2 linked regions of the Homo sapiens genome follow. The protein of the gene in region 1 interacts with the protein of each later gene in a pairwise test. Each region holds a gene or a part of one and is shown in the gene's direction. Other genes may lie near its edges.

Evidence for each region.
Region 2: the proteins of RDH14 (region 1) and METAP2 interact in binary tests that used the Homo sapiens proteins (3 or more experiments, as listed by UniProt).

The regions. Positions count from the first base shown.
Region 1 is NC_000002.12:18,554,171-18,557,896, reverse strand, and holds the end of RDH14 (retinol dehydrogenase 14), read left to right. Parts: intron 1-2,088; coding exon 2,089-2,706; 3' UTR 2,707-3,174; downstream 3,175-3,726. Other genes in the region: NT5C1B-RDH14 protein, read left to right, coding at 2,089-2,706. UniProt on the Homo sapiens protein: Retinol dehydrogenase with a clear preference for NADP. Displays high activity towards 9-cis, 11-cis and all-trans-retinol. Shows a very weak activity towards 13-cis-retinol. Has no activity towards steroid.
Region 2 is NC_000012.12:95,469,201-95,477,308, forward strand, and holds the start of METAP2 (methionine aminopeptidase 2), read left to right. Parts: upstream 1-4,951; 5' UTR 4,952-4,979; coding exon 4,980-5,130; intron 5,131-6,870; coding exon 6,871-6,978; intron 6,979-8,108. UniProt on the Homo sapiens protein: Cotranslationally removes the N-terminal methionine from nascent proteins. The N-terminal methionine is often cleaved when the second residue in the primary sequence is small and uncharged (Met-Ala-, Cys, Gly, Pro, Ser, Thr, or Val).

The DNA.
Region 1 (3,726 bases):
GTATTTAATTATGTGTAACACAGGTTAAGAAATAATACTCATCAGTGAGATTTTGGAAGCATTAAAGATGGATCTTTCTGTTCCTCTTTAAAATATAGATGGGGCTGGGTTTGCTTCTTTGGCACTTGAGGCAGAACTAATTAAAAAGTGAGGACACAAAGAGATAATTAAGTTGTCCTTGCTTCTAAGTAAGTATTTCTGTTCCTGCCTGGCTCTGAAGTTAAGTGACTATAATTAGAAGGAAAAAAAAATGGAAATGTAGATTTCCCACAGGTTGGTATTCTTGGTATTTATTTCATTTATCTCGTAGAATTTAAAAAAATAGTAAATGACAAAATTTTAAAATAACACAAGCCCAGCAAAGAATGCTGGATAACAAATGATTAATTCAGGAAAATCTTCCAAAGGATTTGTGAAAAAGAATACTCCTTTCTTTCCCCCATGAGTGAACTCTTGCCTTCTTTTTGAAGTTGACTATTGGAAAACCCAAAGATGCTTAGACAGGGCAGAATGAGAAATAGTTAATCCTCTGACAGGTGGGCTTCGATAACAGTTGTGAAATGTAACACATTTTTCTTTTCACTTATAGTTGGCAGAAGGGCCAGTGAAATTTGAAAGTTGACCTCATATTAATCATGGGTCATCACAGTGTCTTTACACTTGGAACATGTGCATTTCTTTGTCCATCAAAAGAAACAGAACAACCGAGAAAAGGCTAGAGAAGACCATCTTACATGATTTAAGGAATAAAAAGACTTCCCTATGAGAACAGTCTAAATTTTAGGACTTTAATTTGGAAAGATACAGAAGCATAAGTTCAGAGTATAAAATGTTGACTGTACAGATCTCCTAGAGTCCCCTTTACGCTGGATATTTTTATATTACCTGATTATTTTTTTCTTAATCTTTGATTATTCTTTATGAATCTCGATTTATTCATGATGTTCTCTCCAGTGTTAAGTTTGCATTTCTGACCTTTTCTATTGCTTGTTTCACTTTTAAGGAAATGACTTGAAGTTGTTCCACCCCCATGGTGCCATTTACCCTGAGAGAACTACAGAATAAAGCAACCATAAGTTTGCCCTTGGTGTTGATAACCAGTAGCTCTGGGAATAAACTATGCTTACCTGTTTTCTACAGCATATGGTCTGTCTAGCTTTCATTGCCTCTCTAGCTGTTTTGAAAATCCCAATTAGAAAGCCATGCCAGCTTACTAATTAAGAAAATAGGCCTTGGTGTCAAAGACTTCATCTTCAGATCTGATCTTATTTTGCTACTTAGGAGTTCTGATACTGGGCAAGTCACCTAGCCTGTGAGCTTCATTTGCTTATACAGTTGTTGGAATTAGATGTGGTGACATGCGAAAAGCACAAAGCCTGGCTCCTATCAAGCTTCTGCATCTATTTTTTTTTCTATTTTTCTCTCAATTATTGGAAGCTCATAGAAGCATTTTGGGATAGAATTTTAGTAGTTTGCAAGTATTTTTAAACATTTTATCATAGGTACACTTATAATTTTGATATGATCTCAGTATTAACCTGATAACTCCCAAATTGATATTTTCCTAGTTCAACTGAAATTAAAGGGAGAAATATGGGATTGTAGGAGTGCCTTGTCCTCAAATTGACTGTATTTCTGTTTTGAGAAAGATCTTGGTACTGATCACGTAGTCAACTTTCTAATGCAATGTTAAAGTTTATATATTTGTAAATGTTATTGTTATAAAAGCATAAAACCAGAAATTAAGTCTTAGATTTAGTTTCTACATCTTTTATTGGAAGATGACTGTAGATAAATATCTTTCTGTATATCATTTTAATAAATGAGAAAAAAGAGCTGTTGAATGAAAGATCATGAACATCAGTATTTATCTGAGGAACATCCTGCGGAGGAATCCCTTTCCCCATTTATTAAACACAAAATTGCCAGTGTTTCAAGTAGTTCTCTGATCGATAGACCAACAACTGAAATTAAATGCTTTTAGTCTCAAGTGCCCATTTTTATTAAAATGTAATTATCATGAACAGAAAAAGCAATACAAGGCGTGTGTTCTTAATAATTCTGCCATTCTCTTTTTGACATTTAAAGGAAGAGCCTAGGCTGGATGTCTTGATCAATAACGCAGGGATCTTCCAGTGCCCTTACATGAAGACTGAAGATGGGTTTGAGATGCAGTTCGGAGTGAACCATCTGGGGCACTTTCTACTCACCAATCTTCTCCTTGGACTCCTCAAAAGTTCAGCTCCCAGCAGGATTGTGGTAGTTTCTTCCAAACTTTATAAATACGGAGACATCAATTTTGATGACTTGAACAGTGAACAAAGCTATAATAAAAGCTTTTGTTATAGCCGGAGCAAACTGGCTAACATTCTTTTTACCAGGGAACTAGCCCGCCGCTTAGAAGGCACAAATGTCACCGTCAATGTGTTGCATCCTGGTATTGTACGGACAAATCTGGGGAGGCACATACACATTCCACTGTTGGTCAAACCACTCTTCAATTTGGTGTCATGGGCTTTTTTCAAAACTCCAGTAGAAGGTGCCCAGACTTCCATTTATTTGGCCTCTTCACCTGAGGTAGAAGGAGTGTCAGGAAGATACTTTGGGGATTGTAAAGAGGAAGAACTGTTGCCCAAAGCTATGGATGAATCTGTTGCAAGAAAACTCTGGGATATCAGTGAAGTGATGGTTGGCCTGCTAAAATAGGAACAAGGAGTAAAAGAGCTGTTTATAAAACTGCATATCAGTTATATCTGTGATCAGGAATGGTGTGGATTGAGAACTTGTTACTTGAAGAAAAAGAATTTTGATATTGGAATAGCCTGCTAAGAGGTACATGTGGGTATTTTGGAGTTACTGAAAAATTATTTTTGGGATAAGAGAATTTCAGCAAAGATGTTTTAAATATATATAGTAAGTATAATGAATAATAAGTACAATGAAAAATACAATTATATTGTAAAATTATAACTGGGCAAGCATGGATGACATATTAATATTTGTCAGAATTAAGTGACTCAAAGTGCTATCGAGAGGTTTTTCAAGTATCTTTGAGTTTCATGGCCAAAGTGTTAACTAGTTTTACTACAATGTTTGGTGTTTGTGTGGAAATTATCTGCCTGGTGTGTGCACACAAGTCTTACTTGGAATAAATTTACTGGTACAAATTCTTAACTGTGCATTTCTTTGGAGGCTTCACTGAATACAGTCCTTTATCATGTCACCATTAGCCTATGCTGATCTTGGTCTGCCCAGTCTCTTCTTGCCACGTATCTTGTACACTGCTCTGAGAGATAATATTCCTAAAACCCAAATCTATCACATTCCTGCTTAAAAAACAGTGGGTTTTGAGCCTTAAAAAAAAAAAAATTTGGCAGAATTCTTTCTTCAAAAGCGGTGTTTCACTGAAACGTAGAAGCTGGAGGGGGTAAAGCAGGTTATCGCAATGCTGCCAAGGTGGAGTCCCCCACGGCAATTCCTAAAGGGATTTCATAGAATATAGTGGTTTATAAACCACTTTTATTTAGACTAAAGATTAAACTGTTGAAGATAGAGTTGAGGCTCCATGAGACAGCACCATGCTTACCCTATACTCTCATACTCAGCACTGTTCAGTAGAACTTTGCAGTGAGGAAAGGAATACTCTGTGTTGTCTGATGTGATGGACTCTAGAAACATGGGATTATTAAGTACTTCAAATTCAACTGAGAACTGAATTTCTAATTA
Region 2 (8,108 bases), on another chromosome or scaffold:
TCCAAAATTAGCTGCATCTACTCTCTAACACTTAGTTGTTTCTTTGCTTGCCACTCAGCCGCTCGTGTTCCCGACGCTCAGCCGCTTATGTTGCTTTGCCAGCTTAAGTCTTTCATGGGCACAGGATGGGGTGGGGCAGGCCAAAAAAGCAACATTTGGGCAGAAAAATGGGGTCAGCTGTTTTCACTTAGGGCCATGGTTCCAGGCTTAAGGGTGGGGTTTAGCTGGGAGCCCAGCCCTTCTGTGACAGTGTGATCATAATTCATGGCAGCCTTGACTTCCCCTGGGTCAAGCAATCCTCCCACCTTAGCCTCCGAGTAGCTGGGACTACAGGCACATGCCACCACGCCCAGATAATTTTTTAATTCCTTGTAGAGAGGGGGTCTTGCTTGGTAACCCAGGCTGGTCTCTGACTCCTGGCTTCAAGTGATCTTCCTGGAGTGCTGGGATTACAGGTGTGAGAAACCATGCCTAGCCTCTAGTGTCTTTTTTTTAAGGTTGACAATTTACATTTCCAATAGTCACTCACGTAATTTTAAATTTTCTAGTAGCCACATTTTAAAAAGTAAAAAGAAACAGGTAACAATCAATCTTAATGATGTTTTTATTTAACTCTATATAAAAATTATCATTTCAACAATAAATATAACATTATTGAGAAACTTTAGTATTTTTGTATTAAGTTTTTGTAATTCAGTGTGTATTCTAAATTATGGCATAACTCAATTTGGACTAGCAGCATTTTTTTTTTTTTTTTTGAGATGGAGTGTTGCTCTGTCGCCCAGGCTGGAGTGCAGTGGCACCATTTCCGCTCACTGCAAGCTCCATCTCCTGGGTTCACGCCATTCTCCTGCCTCAGCCTCCCGAGTAGCTGGGACTACAGGTGCACACCACCACGCCTGGCTAATTTTTTGTATTTTTAGTAGAGACAGGGTTTCACCTTGTTAGCCGGGATGGTCTCGATCTCCTGACCTCATGATCCGCCTGCCTCGGCCTCCCAAAGTGCTGGGATTACAGGCGTGAGCCACCGCGCCCGGCCTGAACTAGCAGCATTTTAAGTGCTCAGTGGCAACGTGGTAGGTGGCCACCATGCTGTGCAGTACAGGTAGACTCTCATGTCTAGATCCACTTGCTGGATGATCTTATCTGTGTCAAAGTTCCAATTCCCATCTATTAGTTGATGACTCAAATTTTTATATCTGCTCCAACTATTCTTTTGATCTCCAGTTCCTTATAGTTATCCACCTTCTTCACAGCTCCACTTTAATGCCCCAAGACACCTCAGACTCAGCATGTCTCACATCTAACTCATAATCTTCCCTTTCAAATCTGAAATGTTTTTCTATCTCTGTTATTTACATTACATTACCAGTCAATCCAGTTTCACCAGCACACACCGAAGGGGATTCCTTGATATCTTCTTCTCTCTCAAATCCCTTATACAATTCATCACCAAGTCTTGCCCATTTTATCTCCCACATATCTCTTAAATCTATTCATTTTTTTGGTCATACCCATCATCATTCCCTTTCAAGCCACTATAACCTATTGACTGTAATAGCCTCTAAACTGATCTCCCTGCTTTCATTCTGGCCACCCTCAACTCTACTCTGTACACTGCAGCCATGGTGATCTTTTCAAAAATCTAATCATGTTAATTGCAACTCTCATCAGGTTAACTGTCTCCTCACCATTAAAATACTTAAGGGGGCTGGACACAGTGGCTCATGCCTATAATCCCAGCACTTTGGGAGGCTGAGGAGGGCGGATCACCTGAGGCCAGGAGTTTGAGACCAGCCTGGCCAACATGGTGAAACCCCGTCTCTACTAAAAATACAAAAATTAACTGGGTGTGGTGGCGCGTACCTGTAGTCCCAGCTACTCGGGAGGCTGAGGTGGAAGAATTGCTTGAATCCGGGAGGCGGAGGTTGCAGTGAGCCGAGATCATACCACTGCACTCCAGCCTGGGCGACAGAGCAAGACTCCATCTCAGAAAAAAATAAAAAATAAAAATAAAATACTTAAGGGAGGTAGGTGGATCACCTGAAGTCAGGAGTTTGAGACCAGCCTGACCAACATGGTGAAACCCTGTCTCTACCAAAATATACAAAAATTAGCTGGGTGTGGTGGCATGTGCCTGTAGTCCCAGCTACTTGGGAGACTGAGGTGGGATAATTGCTTGAACCCAGGAGGTAGAGGTTGCAGTGAGCTGACATCACGCCACTGCATTCCAGCCTGAGCAACAGAATGAGACCCTGTCTGAAAAATAAATAAAAAAAGTAAAATAAAATACTTAAGAGTTTTATATTGTTCTTAGGACAAAGTATAAAGCCCTTAGTATGATCTAAAAGGCTCTGTCAGCTCTCCTACCCTTTCCTTCCTGCAAGGCTCTTACCTTTCTAGTCTCATCTCATCACACTCACTCCCTTCTCCACCTCTTTGCATTCCAGCCATTCTGGATGTTTTTTAGTTCTTTAAATGTGTTATACTCCCTACTGTTTTACAGATGAGAAAATCAAGGCTCAAAAATATATGGGCTGTCCAGAGTCACAAAATTATAGCCAAATGACCATTCTAGTATTAGAATCCATGTCTCCTCTTAAATACCTCTTAAATTTTTCTTTACCTTCCCTTTGCCAAGAATACTCTGCCAGGCGCAATGGCTCATGCCTGTAATCCCAACACTTTGGGAGGTTGAGGCAGGTGGATCACCTGAGGTCAGGAGTTTGAGACCAGCCTGGCCAACATGGTAAAACCCCGTCTCTACAAAAATTAGCTGGGTGTGGTGGTGGGCGCCTGTAATCCCAGCTACTTGGGAGGCTGAGGTAGGAGAATCGCTTGAACCTGGGAGGCGGAGGTTGCAGTGAGCTAAGATCAGGCCACTGCACTCCAACCTGGGTGATAGAACGAGACTCCGTCTCAAAAAAAAAAAAATACTCTCTCTAAACCTTTCCCCTCCCCTTTGCCTATTTATCCTTCAGATCTCAGCCTAATTGCTACTTCCTCAGGAAACTCTACCAGGCCATCCTACCTAGGCAAGTCCCTTTGTAATATGCTCTCATAGCAGCAGTTGTAAATTTGCTTTTATTAGCATCATTGCTTGATGTCTATTTTTGTTAACTGGCTCTATGATGACAAGGATCATCTCTGTTTTTGCTCTCTAAATATTGCCAGATCTAGGTTTATAGTAGGCATTGAACGAATGGATGGATGAGTGAATAAGTGAATATGTCAGCCAAGCAAAGAGCAGCCCAGATAAAAGTAACAGTGAGTTTGAAATGCTCCAAGGTCAGAAAGAGCTTTGAGAGCTGGAGCTATAATAGTAAGAGAGTGGAGACATTGGAGAAGTAGATATGGCTGGGTCTTGCCGGGCATTTTAAAGGATTTTGGACACATGGAAGCTACTTCTATTTTTATTTTTGTGGTATTATGTTTGGTTTACCAACTTTTTATTTTTTATTTTATTTACTTTTTTGGGGGGGATGGAGTCTCGCTCTGTCGCCCAGGCTGGAGTGCAGTGGCGCAATCTCAGCTCACTGCAACCTCCCCCGGGGTTCAAGCGATTGTCCTGCCTCAGCCTCCCTAGTAGCTGGGACTACAGGCGCCTGCCACCACGCCCGGCTAATTTTTGTATTTTTAGTGGAGACGGGGTTTCACCATATTGGCCAGGCTGGTCTCGAACTCCTGACCTTGTGATCTGCCCACCTCGCCCTCCCAAAGTGCTGGGATTACAGGCGTGAGCCACAGCGCCCGGCCGGTTTACCAACTTTTATATTGCCAGCAATCAACTAGGGAAAACAATTTAAAATCTAAATAGGGATAGATTTAAAGAGATAAAGATCTGTACAAGAATAAGAGGAACAGTTTTTATTACTATTGGATAGGTGCTGCCTGAAGCTTTAAGACAGAGAATGTACATTTATGCAGCTGCAGTCAGAGCCTGTGTGAGGTTTACTGTAAACTCACTGGCAATAAGGCTCTTAACGACATTTTGATGCCCATGAAGCTTGGTGCCTAGTTTAAAACTAATGAAAACACCTAAACTCTCCAGGTGGACAAAGCCATATTCAGGAGAAATTGAGAAGGAGTTGGTGCAGGCAGCCAATCACAATCCACTTACGCCACAAACTAAATCTCAAACTGCGGTTTGAACATGAGGCTCAAAACATAAGAAGTAAAGAAATGGGCAAAATTCAATTAGTTTCTGGTGAAACGTCCTAAATCCAAAAGAAAGGTGACCAGAAATAGAGAAAACGGAGTGTGATCTTTTGCATTAATGAGAGAGACCGTGTCCCCGTGTGTTAAAACCTGTCATTCTTGTCCTGAATTGGAAAGTGAGCGGAGTGTGACGGGTTCCCATCTTGAACCGTCCGGGGTTGAGTAGTACAATAAACTAACACGGAACTCCAGCTTCCAAAATTCTCTCCAGTGCCTACAGAGCCTCGCGGAGAGCTGTGATTGTGAATGTCAACGCAGATTTGATTAAATCTCTTAGATTTAAGAGATATGTGGAGTCATGACAATAGAAATGTGTACAAGTGAACACATTTCTTAGCCCGTTTCCCCACTGCCTGTGTGATTTATAAAAACGCAAATATAAAATATTTCCGTTCCAGCAGAGACGCCGCTTGCTACGGCGGGTTGCCCGTCTCCACAGGTATCTCCGGCTGACTCTAGAGCTCAACTTCCCCTTTAAACTTCACCCTGCGCTTGCCGATTTGCTTCGGGAATGCCCGAGGCACCGGACGAAGCAGTCGGGTCTGGCCCCAGTCGACTCCAGCCAGGCGGGGCTCCAAGCCGAGACTCCTGCACGCCCGGCCCGAAGCTAGCCCGACACCCTCAGCTGAGTCCTCCGCCGTCCCAGCATTCCCTGCGTCCCTACCATCGAGAGCAGCTTCCGGCGTGGCTGGTGTAGGCGGGTGGAGAAGGATCGGGGCCCTCGCCGCTCTGTCTCATTCCCTCGCGCTCTCTCGGGCAACATGGCGGGTGTGGAGGAGGTAGCGGCCTCCGGGAGCCACCTGAATGGCGACCTGGATCCAGACGACAGGGAAGAAGGAGCTGCCTCTACGGCTGAGGAAGCAGCCAAGAAAAAAAGACGAAAGAAGAAGAAGAGCAAAGGGCCTTCTGCAGGTAAAGAGAGTTTTATGTTTTCCCAGTCCCCTCCGGGAACGGCTGAACTGTTTGGCTCAGGCCCGTTGAGGGGGCCGGGACCGGGGCCCCAGAGCCCCGACTAGACTGATTCTTGGGCCTGACAGGGTGGCAAAGCCGGGCTATAGATTCCTAGTCTGAGAAGAGGCGTCATCTCCTCCTGTGGGACTAGAGGGCTGGTGGGGGAGAAAAGAGTGCCTGAGGTTGGCGTGTGGTACCTCTGGGGTCGCTGGGCCCGAGCCCCTGTATTACCAGAACTCAGCTCCCACGCACATCGTGGCACGGTCTTGAGATTGTGCGCAGAGCACAGCCCTACCATCTTTCGCGCGATTTGGCCGCCGCCTCAAAAATCCGATTCTGATCCGTATTGCCGCGTCTTTGCTGGTTTGCTGGAGCAAGCTAGGACTTATTTTCTTTGGGGGTGGGCAAATGTAATGGAGAGCACACCTCCTCCCACTATCCCGTTTCACGTTGGGGTTGTTGCAGCCTGCACTTTTGGGGTGTGTGTACATGTGTGTTTGCCCGCGCGCTCATGTCATTAATTGCAGAATTTGTGGTGGTGATAACGAATTTTCACCTGCCTAATCCCATAGCATCGCCAAGCTTTAGGGCCTTTAGACCTGAATTATGATACCAATTGCAGGCAGTGCAGATAGGATATTCTGTGGCTCAGAATGGAACTTCTGAGGTCTTAACCTCTAAATCCACTGGTAAGGCAAGGAGAACTGCTGAGAGTTTACAGTTGGATATTATGAACTAGGAACTTACATATTTTGAGAAGTCTGTGTTTTTGCTGCACAAGCTCCTTCACCTTAATAAAAATTATTTTTACTTGTTTCTAATTAAAATCGCCAGAGAAACAGAAAATGGAGAAGTCAGAAGCGATTAAGATGGAATTGAGAGAGGTCGAAGAGAGCTAATCTTCATCTTTCTGAAATTTTGATTAGATAGGAATGGAAGGAGAGTTGTAGCGTTGCTGGAACTCTTCCAGAGCAAAATTTGTTACTCTGGTGGCTGTTCCTGGATTTCGAGTGAAATTCAAACACTGCTGTTTGTCTTGTAAGGTGTTAAGCTGACTGATCCTAATGTATTTTTAACAGTTGTATTTCTTAATATGAATTCTCTCCAGTAGCCAGAATGTCACTTCATTTCGTGCTACCTGATACTATTAATGCATGTAACATATTGCTCTTATAGGTAGGTTATAATCACTTCCAGAGCAGGGGCCTGGTCTTGTGCTTAGATATTTGAGCGTTTTAGTTTTTTAGTAATGGACTGTCTTTGCCTATTTATTTTGACTTTACCCAGCCCATCGTGATATCCTTATTCATGAAACCAGGCTGCCCCGGGGTGTTGCACATGAATCTTTTTCCTAAGGCCTTCAGCATTTATTACCTATCTGGTGTTTAAGTATTTGTTAAGTCTAATTGCTGACCACTATTACAAGTTAAACTACTTGAGGATAGAGACCAGTTCACGCTGTTTATCTTTTAGCTGCTAGTGTGTGTAATGGATATTTTGTTGAGTAAATTAATGAATGGACAATACTGTGTAGGTATGGAAGATTTTTCTGTCATTAAACGAATTCTGTTATGTTCACAATAATGTTTCTGTTTTTGTTTCCTGAGGAAAGGATTTGTAAGTTTTCCAAGATCATTAGAGCATATTCTAGTGGGAAAGTGTCTGTATTAGATTTGATTTCTGCTATTTTATTTTGATCAGCAGGGGAACAGGAACCTGATAAAGAATCAGGAGCCTCAGTGGATGAAGTAGCAAGACAGTTGGAAAGATCAGCATTGGAAGATAAAGAAAGAGATGAAGATGATGAAGGTAAATGGTTAATTTGATCTTTGTGGTTAGAAAAGCTAGAAAATGTAGCCGGGTGTGGTGGCACACACCTGTAATCCCAGCACTTTGGGAGGTCGAGGCGGGTGGATTACATAAGGTCAGTAGTTCGAGACCAGCCTGGCCAACATGTTGAAACCCCATCTCTTCTAAAAAGACAAAAAAAAATTTAGCCGGGTGTGGTAGCACACACCTGTAATCCCAACAACTTGGGAAGCTGAGGCAGGAGAATTGCTTGAGCCCGAGAGATGGAGGTTGCAGTGAGCTGAGATTGCACCACTGCACTCCAGCCTGGCCAGCAGAGTAAGACTGTCTCAAAAAAAAGAAAGAAAGAAAGAAAGAAAGAAAAGCTAGAAAATGTGATATTCCTTAATCAAAATTTATTTACTCGTATAGTGTTTTCTCTGACATTTCACTTGTTACCTCAATTAATGTCACAGATTAAAAAGGAAAAGGTATTTATTAGCAAGTCTTGAAAAAGTTCAATGTGTTAATTAGCTGTTCAGATAGGACAGATCTCAGAGTTTAAAAATATACTTGGTAGAAGGCAAAGTAGTGAGTATTAATAAGATTGAGGGGTTGTTTATTTAACTAATACTTACTGAAGAACTACTATGTACTAGATACTTTCCTAGGTTATTTTCACATACATTCACATTTTAACCTCACAAAACCAAGCAAAGTAACCTACTTGTGCTTAGATATCCATTTTGTTTTTTGGTAATGGACTGTCTTTTCCTATTTATTTTGACTTTACCCAGCCCTTCATGGCTTTACCCAGCCATCTCATTTTACAGATAGGGAAGTGGTAGTTACATGATTTACCCAAAGTGACATAGCTAATATGTGTAGAATAGAGCCAGAATTTCAAACCTAGTGCCTGACTGCACGTTTGTTCCTTTTACTCTCTATTTTTTTTTTTCTTTTTGAGACCGAGTCTCGCTCTGTCGCACAGGCTGGAGTGCAGTGGCGTGATCTCGGATCACTGCGACCTCCCGAGCTCAAGCAATTCTCCTGCCTCAGCCTCCCGAGTAGCTGGGATTACAGGCGCCTGCCACCATGCCCAACTAATTTTTTTGTATCTTTAGTAGAAATGGGGTTTTGCCAGGTTGGTC